4 linked regions of the Homo sapiens genome follow. The protein of the gene in region 1 interacts with the protein of each later gene in a biochemical or structural test. Each region holds a gene or a part of one and is shown in the gene's direction. Other genes may lie near its edges.

The links.
Region 2: of the proteins of OTUD3 (region 1) and SIX3, one has a biochemical effect on the other in vitro, tested with the Homo sapiens proteins (one study listed by BioGRID).
Region 3: of the proteins of OTUD3 (region 1) and MYL12A, one has a biochemical effect on the other in vitro, tested with the Homo sapiens proteins (one study listed by BioGRID).
Region 4: of the proteins of OTUD3 (region 1) and UBE2L3, one has a biochemical effect on the other in vitro, tested with the Homo sapiens proteins (one study listed by BioGRID).

Annotation. Positions count from the first base shown.
Region 1 is NC_000001.11:19,899,357-19,902,919, forward strand, and holds part of OTUD3 (OTU domain-containing protein 3), read left to right. Parts: intron 1-3,563.
Region 2 is NC_000002.12:44,940,257-44,944,501, forward strand, and holds the start of SIX3 (homeobox protein SIX3), read left to right. Parts: upstream 1-1,445; 5' UTR 1,446-1,848; coding exon 1,849-2,654; intron 2,655-4,245. UniProt on the Homo sapiens protein: Transcriptional regulator which can act as both a transcriptional repressor and activator by binding a ATTA homeodomain core recognition sequence on these target genes.
Region 3 is NC_000018.10:3,246,333-3,250,623, forward strand, and holds the start of MYL12A (myosin regulatory light chain 12A), read left to right. Parts: upstream 1-1,468; 5' UTR 1,469-1,577; intron 1,578-3,028; exon of another isoform or gene 3,029-3,111; intron 3,112-3,229; exon of another isoform or gene 3,230-4,291. UniProt on the Homo sapiens protein: Myosin regulatory subunit that plays an important role in regulation of both smooth muscle and nonmuscle cell contractile activity via its phosphorylation. Implicated in cytokinesis, receptor capping, and cell locomotion.
Region 4 is NC_000022.11:21,570,708-21,574,270, forward strand, and holds part of UBE2L3 (ubiquitin-conjugating enzyme E2 L3), read left to right. Parts: intron 1-3,563. UniProt on the Homo sapiens protein: Ubiquitin-conjugating enzyme E2 that specifically acts with HECT-type and RBR family E3 ubiquitin-protein ligases.

The DNA of each region.
Region 1 (3,563 bases):
CACATACTACACATCCCACACATACATCCTGCACTGTGCTTTTTAAATTTAACATGTCTTGGGATTTAATTCATGGTAGTACATAAGGAACTTCCTGTATCCTTTTTAAAGGCTGCGTAGTGTTCTGTTCTGTAGATGCATTATAATATTTTTGACCAGTCACTTACTGATGGACTTTTAGGTGGTTTCTAACCCTTTGCTATTATAAGCAATGTGCAGTACCTTTTATGTACCTCATTTCACTCATGTATCTGTGGGACACATTCCTAGAAGGTCCTTGCCACATCAGAGGATGTTGATAAGTGAATTGTCAAATTACGTTCTAACAAGATTTCACCGGTTTAAACTCCCACCTGCAATATGTGGCTCTTTTCCTGCACGGTGCACTTCGTCAACATAGTGTTACCAAATTTTTAAATCCTTTTCATTGTTAGGGGAAAAATTGTTTACTTAACCTAGTTTTAATTTGCATTTCTCTTATTTATGCATCTTTTCCTGTGTTTAAGACATATTTCTATTTTTTGTAAATGGTATTCATTTTCTTTCTCCATTTTTTTCCTATTAAGTTGTCTTAATGATTTTGGGGAGCTTTTTATGTATTAGGGAAATTAGCCTCTGTCTGTGATATGAGTTGCAAATAGTTTTTCGCACTCTGTCATTTGTCTTTTTGTTCTTTCTCCTGTGGTCTTTGCTATGAAAGAATTTTAGATTTTTACATAGTTAAATTTGTTACGATTTTCTTATATGCCCTTTGGATTTTGGGTCATAACTGGGAAAGTCTTTCCCACTCTGAGGTTAAAAAGAATTCTCCCATAGTTTAGAATAGTACTTTCATAGTTTCACTTTATTTATTTATTTATTTTTTGAGACTGGGTCTCACTCTGTCGCCCAGGCTGGAGTGCAGTGCTATGATCATGTTTCACTGCAGCCTCAACCTCCCAGGCTCAAGCGATCCTCCTGAGTAGCTGGGACCACAGCTGTGTACCACTATGCCTGGCTAATTTTTTATTTTTTGTAGAGACAGGGTCTCACTTTGTTGCCCGGGCTGGTCTCGAACTCCTGGACTCAAGCAACCCTCCTGCCTCGACCACCCAAAGTGTTGAGATTACAGATGTAAGCTACTGCACCCAGCTCATAGTTTGACTTAAAAAAAAAATTAAATCTTGGCTTCATCTGAAATTTATATTGAAATAAGGGTAGGAGGCTATGGATCCAACTTTATATTTCCCTTGTGATTACCTAGTTGTACCCAAACCATTGATTAATTATACATCTTTTCTCCACTGATTTAAAATGCCACTTTCTTTCCATATACTAAATTCCCATATGTATTTGGGTCTATTCCTAGACATTTGGTTCTGGTCCACTGATCTCCCTGTTCACATGTTGATGCCTCATTGTTTTAGTTGGTATATTTTAAAATCTGGTAGGATTTTTCACTCATAATTAATTTTCTTTTTATAAGTTTCCTTATATGTTGTCTTTTTTAAAAAAAACAAAATGAATGTTAGAATCAATGTGTCTAGTTCAAAGGAAATCCTATTGAGGTTTTTTTTTTTGTTTTTTTTTTTTTTTTTTTGAGACAGAGTCTTGCTCTGTTGCCCTGTTGCCCAGGCTGGAGTGCAGTGGTGCAACCTCTGCCTCCCGGGTTCAAGCGATTCTCCTGCCTCAGCCTCCCGAGTAGCTGGGATTACAGGCGCTCGCCACTACCCTTGGCTAATGTTTGTATTTTTAGTAGAGACGGGGTTTCACCGTGTTGGCCAGGCTGGTCTTGAACTCCTGACCTCAAGTGATCTGCTTAACTTGGTCTCCCAAAGTGCTGGGGTTACAGGCGTGAGCCACCGTGCCCGGCCCTATTGAGTTTTTTAAAATTGGAATCTCATTAAATTAATAGAGTAATTTAAGGAAAAGCTGACATCTTTTTGATGTTGAGTCTTTTATTATTTAATTGACTTTGTGATCCACAGGAACATTTTCTTCATATAGATCTTGCCCACTTTTTGTTGAGTTTATTCTTAGGAGGTGTTTTGTGTTTTTTGTGTCTATTGTAAAGAGATCTTTTATGTTTTCTAGTTGGTTATCATTTGTCTGTGAGAGCTGTTAATAACAAGATGTTAATTACATAGGTATCCCACAGAACCCCTCTTTTTTTAAAAGTTAAGGCAAAATTCACATAACATAAAATTAATCATTTAAAAATATATAGTCCAGTGGTACTCAGTACATCTGCAGTGTTTGTTGTACAACCACTTCTTCTGTCTAGTCCCAAAATATTTTCATCACCCCAAAAGAAAACCTCATATCCATTAAGCAGTGACTCCCAATTCCCCCTCTCCCCTAGCAGTCACCAATCTGCCCTTCTTCTCTATGAATTTGCCTATTCTGGACATTTTATGTAAATGGAATTATATGTGACTTTTTCTTTGTGGCTTCTTTCCCTCAGTATAATGTTTTTGAGAGTCATTCATGGTGTAGCATGTATCAGTACTTCATTCTTTTTTATGGCTGAATAATATTCCATTGTTTGGAGAGATGATTTTTTGTGCACCCATTCATCTGTTAATGAGCATTTAGGTTGTTCCCACCTTTTGGCTATTGAGAATAGTGCTGCTGTGAGTATATGTGTACAGTATTTTTACAAATACCTATTTTCAGTCTTTTTGGATATACCTCGGAGTGGAATTGCTGGGTCATATGATAAACCTAAATTTAACATTTTGAGGAACTGCCAAACGGTTTTCCACAGCAGCTGCACTGTTTTACTTGCCACCGGTAATGTATGAAGGCTCTGCTTTCTCTTCATCCTCTCTGACAAATGTTTTTTTCTTAAATGGTCATCCTAGTTAGTATCTTAAAGTTTTTTTTCGAGACGGAGTCTTGCTCTGTCGCCCAGGCTGGAGTGCAGCGGCACGATCGTGGCTCACTGGCAAGCTCCGCCTCCCGGGTTCACGCCATTCTTCTGCCTCAGCCTCCCGAGTAGCTGGGACTACAGGGACCCACCGCCACGCCCAGCTAAATTTTTGTGTTTTTAGTGGAGACAGGGTTTCATCGTGTTAGCCAGGATGGTCTCGATCTCCTGACCTCGTGATCCACCCACCTCGGCCTCCCAAAGTGCTGGGATTACAGGCATGAGCCACCACGCCCGGCCAGTATCTTAAAGTTTTGAATTGCATTTTCTTAATAGCTAATGACATTGAACATCTTTTCATGTGGTTTTCGGCCATTTGTATATCTTTGGAAAAATGTCTATTCAAGTCTTTTGCCTATTTTTTAATTGGGTTCTGCCTTTTTGAGTTGTAAGAGTTTTTTAATATATTCTAGATGCTAGATTCTTACCCAGGTATATGATTTGCTGTAATTTTTTTGGTTTGCAGTAGTTTTTTGTTGATTCTCTTGTTTCAGTTACAGAATTATATCATCTACAAAGACAGATTACTTTTTTCTTTTTAATTTTATACTTAAAATTTATTTTGGCTAAATACTTTGGCTGTTACCTCCAAAATATTGTTAAGTAATAATGGGGGGAGTGATTATTGTGTTTCTTCCTTTAGTGGGAATGAAGA
Region 2 (4,245 bases), on another chromosome or scaffold:
TACTGTGTGTGAATCCATTCAACATATACACTTTTTAACACCAAACCGAGTCCTGTCTAAATATACACAGTGCTCAGGGAAAGACGTCTCTGACCCCGACAAATCTGCGTAAATCACACTTCCATAGTTACAGAAGCCTCACAAAGGGAGGCCCGGCTCAAGATGCTGATTACAGCTTCTTAAAAGCAACATACCTAAGAATAAATACCCATGCCTGGCCTAGGGGCTGTGGTGGCCAGAGGCAGAGAGGGCCCTCTGTGTTCTATGGGCCTTTTGGCGTCTGTTTTAGGCTTTCGATGTTACTTTCCCTAGAGAAATTAGACAGTTTAAAAATAATAATGGTAATTATTATTATTTTACAATACGAGCAAACAAGCAATTTTCAGGCCTTATTCACTTCATCCGGGTGGCTGGCCTCCAAAGTTTGAGTGCCCTCTGGGGCTGGCAGGCAGGACCAGAGCTCCTTCTGTTGTGTGGTGAGGAGTGGGCATCTGTAGGACTTTTCTGGGTCCAGAGGGCTCTTGGGCTTCTCGGCTCCCGCAGCTCCTCCACCACTCCTCAGAGAGGCAGCTGAATTCTGGGAAGAAACAAAGAGTTGAGTTGCTTCTTAAGATGGAAAGAAGTGTACTGTTTGGACTGTTATTTTAAAATACAGGGTGGTGGGGGAAATCGAGGCTCCTTGGCCGGGGAGGGAGTAAAGAGAAGCCTAATTGATGAAGAGGGAGTTGAGGTGAATGCGGTCCATGGGCACCGATGGGGGAGGCAAGAGCGGCCTCCAGCACCCTGGGAATTGGGCTCAGGCTCCCTGGCGCCAGATACCCTCGGAATCCGGGATCCCCGGCTGGCGCCACGGCCCGCTGGGCCAAGGTCGGTGCTTGGTGGGCCCCATGATCTCATCTCTCCTTTCTTCCTTGCCACTATTAGTGCTCACATAGGCAGAAAGAGGCGGCCCGACGTGCAAACCATGTGCAAACCGCGCCCGCTGGGCTGGTCAGCCGTCTTTCCTTGCCTGCCGACCTGGACTATGTGGAGCCTGGGGGACCCTCTTGCCTCCCAACAAAATCCCCTCTCTAATTGCACATCCCATTCAACAACTCTGCCCAGGGCTTTTCGAATTTCTGGATCAACTTCTTTAGGAAAAAGGGAAGAAGAAGTCTCAGAGACAGCGGTAGAGAAAAGAGGAGAGAGAGGGAGAAGAGAGAAGAGAGGAGGGGGAGGTAGCGAGATTAAGAGTTGCAAAGATAAAAAAAATTCTCTTTATCCCCCCACTTCTCCCTCCTTCCCTGCTCTCCCCCTCCCCCCGCCCTCTGGCTAAGTGGTAAAACCGTCCTTACGTTCTCGGTATTGATTGGCAGGGCTGACAGTGATTGGCAGTGGTTGCCGTGGCAACGCCACAACGACACGCCACAGACCAATAGAAAAGCGAAACAAAATGTTTCAATGCTGCACTCACTGTGGATTTAGGGGAGATATTATGAGGCTGTTGTCATTAGGGCGATTGCGGTGGAATCGCTGAATCTTGACTCGGCGGTGGTTGGCTCTCCCTCTCCTCTCTCCCTCTCCCTCTCCCTCTCTGTCTCGGGTTCTCTCTCTGCGCGCGCGCACCGGGCCGCTCTCCTACCTCCCTCTCTATGTGGCTGCGCGGGTGTGTGTGTGTGTGGATGTGTGTGGGGTGTGGGTGTCCCTTACGCCCTTCCTCCTCTCCCTCCTCCTCCTGCTCCCCCCTCCTTTCCTTCTCCTCCTCCCCCCTCTCCTCTCCCTCCTCCTGGTCCTCATCGCCCCTCTCCTCCTCTTCCTCCCCTCTCTCTTCCTCTCCCTGAATTTTCTCCTCTCCTCTCAGGTCAGTCCATGGTATTCCGCTCCCCCCTAGACCTCTATTCCTCCCACTTCTTGTTGCCAAACTTCGCCGATTCTCACCACCGCTCCATACTTCTGGCGAGTAGCGGCGGCGGGAACGGTGCGGGAGGCGGCGGCGGCGCGGGAGGCGGCAGCGGCGGCGGGAACGGTGCGGGAGGCGGCGGTGCTGGCGGAGCAGGCGGCGGCGGCGGCGGCGGCTCCAGGGCCCCCCCGGAAGAGTTGTCCATGTTCCAGCTGCCCACCCTCAACTTCTCGCCGGAGCAGGTGGCCAGCGTCTGTGAGACGCTGGAGGAGACGGGCGACATCGAGCGGCTGGGCCGCTTCCTCTGGTCGCTGCCCGTGGCCCCCGGGGCGTGCGAGGCCATCAACAAACACGAGTCGATCCTGCGCGCGCGCGCCGTGGTCGCCTTCCACACGGGCAACTTCCGCGACCTCTACCACATCCTTGAGAACCACAAGTTCACCAAGGAGTCTCACGGCAAGCTGCAGGCCATGTGGCTCGAGGCGCACTACCAGGAGGCCGAGAAGCTGCGCGGCCGCCCACTCGGCCCGGTGGACAAGTACCGCGTGCGCAAGAAGTTCCCGCTGCCACGCACCATCTGGGACGGCGAGCAGAAGACGCATTGCTTCAAGGAGCGGACTCGGAGCCTGTTGCGGGAGTGGTACCTACAGGACCCCTACCCCAACCCCAGCAAGAAACGCGAACTGGCGCAGGCCACCGGCCTCACTCCCACACAAGTAGGCAACTGGTTTAAGAACCGGCGGCAGCGCGACCGCGCCGCGGCGGCCAAGAACAGGTTAGTGGCGGGGCCCGCGGCCTGGCTACAGCCTCAGAGGCCTGGGAAGGGGAGAGGGGTTGAGATGGGGCTAGCGGAGCGGCCGCTGAGAGCCAGGGAAGCCGTGACTCCTGGCCAGTCGGAGAAAGTTTCCGCTTGTCCGGGACGCGCGGAAGAGGGGGCCGGGCTGGCTGTGGGTGTATTGATTGCTTTGACCAAGAGGGGCTTTCGTCAGGGCAGAGAGTGTGTGCTTGCGACCCGAGTACCCGCAGCCCCTGGGAGACTTAGCCCTGCGCTGCACCCGTGCCTGCCTCCTCAGCCCTGCCGCCAGCTCGGCGATCCTCTGGAGCCTAGAGACAGGGAGGGAAGGAAAGCACTCTTTGCCATCTGGTTCTTATTTCTGTGCGTTGCAAAACCCCGAGAGAAATCCACTAGCGTCAGAGAGAGGAAAGTGAACCTGGGTCCCTATCACAAGGGGAAAAGGCCAGAGGCCACTGCGCAGCGGGCCTGTTTCCCCGCAACGCTGCACGTTGCCTGACCGGGAGCAGGAGAGCCGGGCTGGGAGTGGAGAGGCCTAGCGTGTGCGTGTGCGTGTGTGTGTGCACGCCCGTGTGCATGTACTCGCCCTCCTGTTTCAGCCGAGGAGAATCCCTTTGGTCCTCTAAGCTGGGAAGCGGGCACGAGCAGCCTCGTTGCCGGCAAGTTGGCCACAAAGTCACAAAATTGTATAGGGCTTGACCAACATCACAGGAGCTGGGCCTGGGGGAAGGAGAAAAAGAACCAGAGGGAAAGAAGTGGATAGGCGAAAGGAGTGGGGAGAGAAGGGAGAAAGAAAAGAGGAAGTTGGGTGAAAGCCCTGATGTGGAGCCTGTGTCTTTCTCTATCCAGCCAGGAAGGCCCAGGGCCTGGTGTACTTCAGGGAGCAGGACCCCCAGCTGCTGACAGCTGCCCGTGGGTGGGGGCTGGGTGTGAGTTTCTGGAGGTGTGTTCGAGTTTAGGCGGCCGGGACCTGAGCCCATGGCCCTCTCACCCCTGCCGTGGAGCCCACTTTTCGTCTGATGAGGGGAGCGCCCAGGGTCAAGCCAAGGCCTCCTTGTGGAGAGAATTCCAGACACCAGGTCCAGGCAGAAGGTTCCCGGTGGGGGAAAGGGCAGCTGGAGACTGCTCTGTGCGCCTCTCTTGCCTTCTCCTTTGCCCCTTTTCTGTCTCCCTGCTCTTTCCCCACTTTTCCACCGCCAGCTTTCCTATTTTCTCTACCCTCGGTCCTGCGCTCTGCGCTGGCATCCAGAGAGCAAAGTATGCAGTTCTACCCGGAGACTGGCCGGGCGGTGGGGAACCCGCAGCTCCCGGTGTGTGTTTGAGGGAGCAGGGACGGGGTTACTAGGGGAACTCGACCGGTCGCGGGGCAGCCGGCTCAGTTTGAAGAGCCCCAGGGACTGCGGAGGGAAGAAGCGCCCGGCTCCTCTCCGACTTCTGCTTCTCCAGGGCTTGGCGTACTTTGTCGCTTGCACCCAGGCCTCCCCAAGCGGCCGGGCTCGGGTTCTGCCTCTCCTCCGAGGCCAGCCTCTATCTGAGAAGACTTGGGATGCTCCCGAAAGCGGAATGGGGAGCG
Region 3 (4,291 bases), on another chromosome or scaffold:
AGAGCCCACTTAGGACCCCCATTACATGGATGGCTTCCCAGGACCTGCCCTTAAAGACTCCGATTTAGTAGGTTGGAAATGACGCAATTATTTTTATTTTTAATTAGTACCCCAAGTCATTCTTTACCATCAAGGAAGTTTGGGAAACAGATCACTTTTGTTTCAATCACCTGTGGAACTGGAGCAGTTATTTTTTTCCCCAGCGACTTTACCACGAAGTTAACTTTGGAATACGTTAGTGGTTAATACACGGAACGTTCCCGAGATCCCTCAAGAAAGAAGCTACGAATACTTAGAAGATACTATTCCGCGGCGTTTACAGCAACACTGTCCGTTCCAGAAGGATTCAAGTGGCGGCCTGCTTTGAAGGCGAAGACCACAGGGCAACCCAAACTTCAGAAGGGTTCTGGCCACGGGAGCCACACTGGTCACTGTCCCCTAGTGCTGGGATGACGGCTCGAGTGTTAGAGGATCCCACTCTCTCCTCTGGTAGGTGAGGTCAGAGAGCTGAGGGGGCCAGAACAAGTCTTCCTTATCGGATTCTGGGCGGAAAAAGATAAAGTCGGGGAGGACTTTCTCTTTTTAATAAGATTCATCGTTACGAATTGTTCTAGGCAAGCAGACCTCAGGAGAAATAGGCCCAAGTTTTGATTCCTGTTTTCACCAAGTCGCAAGTCCTAATCGTAGCAAGAGGTGCGGGGAAGAGTCGCCTTCCTTCCTGCATAGTGGGATCCAAGTCAGGCTGTCCTTGTTAGCCAGGGTCAAAGGGGCTCTGCCAGGGAAAAACGACGGCAAATGTTTTTCAAGAGGAAGTCTCCAGCCACTTGTGACCTGGGAAATCCGTCTGGGCCAAAAAGATAGTGGAGGCTTGGCTGAGGGCCCCAGGGACACACGTTTCCTCCCGTATGGAGGGGGCGGGACTCTTAATAAAATTACACTGCACACAGAGCTAGCATCAAGATCCGCTCCCGGGATACGCGCACTGCTCCGGGGCCCTCAGGCGGAGACCCAGACCCCGCGCGGGGCGTCAAGCGCAGGCGCACTACCGCCCACAAGCTGGAGCCCGGCTTCGGGGCGGGGCGAGGGTCAGTCACGTGGGCCCGCAGCCCTCTCCTCGATTTCCCTACAAGGACTTGGGCCGACGGGCCCCGCCCTTCGCCGTGCCCTGGAATGTGCGGCCAGGCAAAGCCACAGGACGGACGCAACCATCTGCGGAAAGGATAGGGGGGAGGAAGACTTAACACTGCAACAACAGGTACAAAAAAGAAGGAAACTCAGTAACAGGACCCAGAGGACCATTATATATTGCTCTATATTCTAGGTCGCCCACTTTACACTTCCTTCTCATGCACTTGGTCAATACCACGCCCGCTGACCACACTGGCGACTTCCCTCTCTGTCGCCCCTCCGTGAAGTCAGACCCACTCTGCGGGCCAAGAAAGGTGACCGGGCTTCCTTCCGGCTTGCTAAGCAGAGGCCGGAAGCGGTGGTTTTTAGCGGCTCTCTGGGTAGCAGGGTGGTGTGATAGCGGCAGCGAGGGGCTCGGAGAGGTGCTCGGATTCTCGTAGCTGTGCCGGGTGAGTGGCGCTCGCGTTCGGGCGCGTGAGACCCATCCCGGGGACCCGTCTCCGCGGGGGCAGCTGGAGGGCGGCGGGGCTCCTGGCGCCGGTAGCGCACCTGGGCAGGTGTGCCAGCCAGGTCCCCGGTTCTGGGATCCGAGGCCATGGCTTGGAGTGGCCCAGACCCGAACTTCGCTCCTGTGCCCAAACTTGGAACTCTGGAAATGTGGCTTCGCTCACTGGCGCCTTGAGCTTGGGCGACTGCCGGGCCCGCGAAACCCGACCCCTGCAGAGCTGACTCCGGGACTATTTTAGTTTCTAACGTCAACTTGCCCGATTCAAGAGGGTTTGCGCAAAAACGTAGCCCGTTGTCCCCCTGCTGCAGCTGTTGTTGCAGCTGTGTGGCTGCGTTTAGTAGGAATAACCAACTCAAATTGGGAAGTTCTTCAGCTCAGTATCCGCTCCTGTAATTAGAACTTTTTTTCTTTAAGCGATGAAATTTTGGACAGAGAGATCTGGAGTTTAGTTTGTGACTCGAAGAAAAACTCCAAAATGTAATACCTTGTCCCATTTGGGGGGAAAGTTTGGGCTAATTCAATTCGCCATGGAAGTGTCTTCTTTTTAAAGTAGTTTAGTAGGTATATGAATGTATCTGTCAGTTCTTGAGAGACCTATGGATTTAGCAGAGATTTTAACTTAAGTGCAAAAAGTTTCATATTTAAAGGCGAATAAAGCGAATATTTCTTAAAATTATTGGTATTTGTTTCATGTTCTGGAAGGGCTCTAATAAACGGTAATCAGAAAAGCACTCTATTTTCAAAAGCGAGGCTTTACTGGCAAGTCAGCCCTCACAGCTAATTGTCTTTGTCCAGTGGTGAGAACTTTTGGGTGTGGCAGTCCAAGAGAACGAATCCTACCTTCAACCGGAAGTTTGCATAAGAAATGAAACTTGGTTTACTTGGAACGGAAGCACCAACTTGAAATACACTTTTTAAAAATTGTGGTTAGCACCAGAAAATAAGTTATACTTAGGCTTTTTTTTTTTAAGTGCATTGATTAAATGAGGCGGTATATTTGGTCAGGGTTTAGAAAGCCCACCAAATACTAGGTGCTATCACAGTACGCAGTGTTTTGTAAGATGGTGGTTTTTTCTTGCAGAATGTGTGATATTTCTCAGAATATTATCAATTTGAGTGTTCGTTTTGTAGAAGAAGTTTCTAGGTTATTTTACATTTATTGCCACTTTGTAAATAAATGCTGGACTCTAGGATTCTAACCACAGAACTCTAATGTATATATTGGTATGGATTAATCCCATTTTATAAATGAACATAGTTTCTAGAGATTCTGAAAACTTCTTGTGTCCTTTGGTGTGTGGGGAAAGCCACTTTGAGAATCTCTTCTATTTCTCCCACCTATTAATCTAGTCTAACATTTTCCTTAATCATGTTGTGTATCTCTCGTTACAGCCCACAATGATTCTGAGCTAAAACACAAAATAAAAACCAGATTCATTGCCACCAGCGCTCACCTCGCCTGACTTAAAAAAAAGGTTATGCTCCTTTAGATCTGTAAACTCAGTCTCCTAACTGCCCTTCATCCACTTTCTCATGCATCTGAAATCCTCATATTTTGTAGAAGCCTGTTCTGTAAGTCTCTCTACTTTCCAGTTTCGTACAACAGACACTCCTTGACACCAAGGATCTTTCACTTAATCCCTCAAAAATAAAGACTCGAGCTGGGTGCGGTGGCTCACGCCTGTAATTCCAGCACTTTGGGAGGCCGAGGCAGGTGGATCACGAAGTCAGGAGTTCAAGACCAGCCTGCACAAGGTGGTGAAACCCCGTCTCTACTAAAAATACAAAAATTAGCTGGGCATGGTGGTGGGTGCCTGTAATCCCAGCTACTCCAGAGGCTGAGGCAGAGAATTGCTTGAACCCTGGAGGTGGAGGTTGAGATCGCGCCACTGCACTCCACCCTGGGCGACAGAGCAAGACTCCGTCTCAAAAATAAATAAATAAAAATAAATAAGTAAATAAAGACTCGACTTTATGATTGAGGAGCTTCGTAATTTGGAAACCTCAGGTCCTTACCTGGCGATCTTTGCATCCTAAAGAATAATTACATTGACATGAAATCTTTTCAATTTATTTTACCCTAGCTTGCTTTTTGTAAAAAGCAATTTCAGGGGGGAGGGGGGAGGGATAGCATTAGGAGATATACCTAATGTTAAATGACGAGTTAATGGGTGCAGCACACCAACATGGCACATGTATACATATGTAACCTGCACGTTGTGCACATGTACCCTAAAACTTAAAGTATAATAATAAAGCAATTTCAACTTTTTTAGATTAAGGGGTATACCCTAGTTTTCTAAACTTCGATGAGAGTTGTGCATTTGCTGAAGGCTTATTACATGAAGAGTGACAGTCTAAATTGTTTGAAGGAAAGTAAAATGAACAACAAACTAGAATCAGCAAAGAGGACCCTGACAATATCAGAAATGATCTGCTCCTTGAGATCATAGCACTGTTCCTGATTTGACTCCCTCCACCATTATTTATTCTCCCCACACTTTTAGTTTGGTAGGGAAAAAACCCCACAGTTTCTGTATTTTGGAACAGTGACTGTGCAGCCAAACTCCCTATCGCTGAAAGGTTTCTGGTGGAAAATAACTCATAGATCAGAATCCAGCCTCCTTGAAAAAGTAAAGGCCTAGGTAGTAACTT
Region 4 (3,563 bases), on another chromosome or scaffold:
TTTTTCTTTTAAAGGAAGAAAAATTATTGATACAAGTTGATAAACAGTCTTTTCAGTACATAGGGTGGTAATAAAGTGATTTTCGTTGGTGAAAAGTTGGGGCTTAGTGCATGGAACAGTGCCTTAGGCATAGCAATCTAGCAAATGTTGAATGATCAAATTAATTACATCTTAAAGAACTTTAGATTTCTGTTAAAAATGTTTTCTAGGACATTCCACAGCAAAGATTTCTTTGTAACAATGGACTGTCTGCAGATAGTGTAAAACACATTATTAAAAGTAGAGTGATTTACATATACTACACTGAGAAGTTATTTTAGGCAAAGTGAGTATGATAAAGTCTTTTATTTCAAAAGCACTTGCCAGGAGGCTTAACCTCTTTTAGAAGCCTTTTTAGGAATTACAGTGTTAATAAAACATTAAGTACATTTTAATTTGCAAGCAGCTAATTTAGCATTGTTGGCTACAACCAGATTGTAACCATTGCTTCAATCAGGATGGGGAAATTGCTGCAAAAGCCAAAAGTGAAACCTTTATGTGTGGCTTAGGCAACTGATTGCCATCTGATCATTTCTTTGCAGCTTCACACTGCACACATTTCCCCTAAGGGCCCTCCTGTTGAGTAGCTTCCCAGAAGGGCTTTTCTCAGAGGGGAAATCTGTGGATTTAGAGGGGTGTGTGTGTAATGTCTTATTACTTATCATGACATAACTGTTGAGTTAAGGAGTTTCACTCTTGTTGCCCAGGCTTCAGCGCGATGGCACGATCTCTGTGCACTACAACCTCTGCCTCCCAGGTTCAAGCGATTCTCCTGCCTCAGCCTCCCAAGTAGCTGATACTATAGGTGTGCACCACCACTCCCTGCTAATTTTGTATTAGAAAGGAGGTTTCACCATGTTTGCCATGCTGGTCTCTAACTCCTAACCTCAGGTGATCTGCCCGCCGAGGCCTCCCGAAGTGCTGGGATTACAGGTGTGAGCCACTGCGCCCAGCCTAATGCTATTTAAAAATGTTCACTCAGAACTTCATATTGTTATATTTTCTCCCAGTTCATAGTCATAGTAGGAGGAACCTCTAAAAGTTCATTCCTTGGGTTTCGTTGTATTAAGCAGTGAGGTAGTTTGCTTTTGAGTATAGGTTTAGATTCTGAGGTTGGGTGATTAAGGAGATAGAGCAATGAGTATGTCACATGTTTCAGGAGGTGAGGGGAGTTTTATATGTGATGTTATGCCAGTGTAAATGTCCTGAATCCACTGAGGCTTTGTGAATTGAGAAAAACGTTGCGTCTTTTTTTCTAAATTCATGCATTCCAGTAAGTTGGGACTGTTTCAGCCTCCCTTAATGGTATTCTTTGTAAATGTTTGGGACAGGTGATGGGAAGGAGTATACTCAATTATTGCAACATTTGGGACCTTTTAAGGTATTTACTAGAAAACTCTGAGGCAGGCCAGGCGTGGTGACTCACACCTGTAATCCCAGCTCTTTGGGAGGCCGAGGTGGGCGGATCATGAGGTCAGGAGTTCGAGACCAGCCTGGCCAACATAGTGAAACCCCCGTCTCTACTAAAAATCCAAAAAATTAGCTGGGCGTGGTGGTGGGTGCCTGTAATCCCAGCTACTCGGGAGGCTGAGGCAGGAGAATTGCTTGAACCCGGGAGGCAGAGGTTGCGGTGAGCCAAGATTGTGTCATTGCATTCCAGTGCGAGACTCCGTCTCAAAAAAAAAAAAAAAAAAAGAAAACCCTGAGACAAAAACTCTTGTCTCAGGGTACTGGGGCCTTTTCTGATCTTGTTAAAACTCTAAATTAGGAGACTGTTGCTTTAAAATTTTATTATAAGAGGACACTTGAAAGTATTCTCATTTTATTGGAACATTTATTACGTTTAAGATATTTCTATATTCTTTGCTACAGCAGTAAATGTGAGAGCCACATTTCTTTGCAGCTTCACACTGCACACACACTGCACACACTGTGCACATTAGAGAGCCACAGAGACGTTCCTCCTGAGCCAGACTCCAACCACTTCCAGAGTTTTCTTGGGAACGGCACATAGATCTGTAGGCATCTGAGTCTTAGCTCCTCCTGTGACTCTCTCCCTCTGGCCCCATGCATCTCCTCCTGTCCCACCTTAGTTAATGGTTCACTTGTCTACTCAGTTGCTCAAGGAAAAAACGCCAGCGGAGCCCTTCTCGGCTCTTCCTCCCTTGTCTAGTCACCTGGCGGATTCTGCTGAACTATGCCTTCAGTCTCTCTTCTCTGCCTGTCTTCTCTCCATCCCCACTCCCACTCCCAATGCCACTGCCACTCCCACTGCCTCAGTTCAGGCCATCCCTGTTTGTGGTAGACACCTGCATCGAGCTCCTTAATGGTTCATCTAAACTCCTTACTGGTCAGCGCACTCTCTGTCCCACACTACTCCTAACCAGCAGTGCATCAGAGTAGTGTATGGTGTGGTGTGCAGTAGAGAAGTGCACATGAGCAGGCCCTGCTCTCAGAGATTGGAGCAGAATTTAGTAGGGTGAGGATGAGGCTGGGACTCTGGATTACAAGTGCACATTCCTTAGCTTTTTCCTTCAAGGTCTTGTCTCACCAGCCTTGTCTCTCCCCACTTGCCCGTTGAGTCCCCTAAAAACAGCATGCTTTGCACACACACTCTGGATCTCGTGATTGGCATCCCTGTCTCTTCTCTGTACCAGGGTAACTTTTTGACCTTTGAGACTCAGCTCAAGGGGCAATTCCTCTGCCCTTGAGGAGCTCAACAAAGGAGAAAAATGGCACGTACCTGGAACAAAGAAATCCTGGGCTGGCCACTGTGTGCTAGATGTCTGCCACCTGAATAATGGCTTGCAGGAGAGGGAAAGACCCCCTCTGACACTGAGGAGGAGGTCGAACTTGGCCTGGCCCTTTAAGCACGAGTAGGGTTTCAGCAGTTGAAGAAGACGGACTGGGTGGCCAGTGAGGTTGAGTCTCTCTCATCCCTCAGGAGGGCTGTGGGCAGTGCCTATGGGAAATGCTTTGAGGAGCCCCAGAGACCATCTGCCTACTCCCCAGTGCTGCTTGCGTCTGACCTTGTGCCGTCCCGCTTTGGGTTTTAGTTAGGCCAGCCCCTGAGATGCTTTCCAGAAGTGTTGAGGCATTGGCTTGATTTTACCCCAGATTGGCATGTCCAGTGCACCTGGTTCCTCCAGAGCTAGGAGACCTCCCTCTGCCAGGCCAGCCTTGGAGGGTGAGCTACCTCTCTATAGAGGGGTCACTGAGGGCAGTGCTGATGGATTTAAGGACAGGTGGCAGAGATGCCATAGCCTTTAGGTTGAGGGGCCAGATCTACATATCTCCTGGATGCTACAGCTATCCAGGAGAAGTGGCATGCCACTCACTCAGAAAGGGCTTTGCATGTATCTCCTGTGGCCAGCTTCATCATGCCTGTTCTTGGGGGACATAAATAAGCCTAACCTCCCCAAGCCCCCCACCCCTATAAGAAAGGGAGGAAGGGGCTTTTGCTCAGAGCAAAGCTGTTTAGAGGAAGACTACAGCATAGCAGTTAAAAGCTCAGGTTCTGGAGT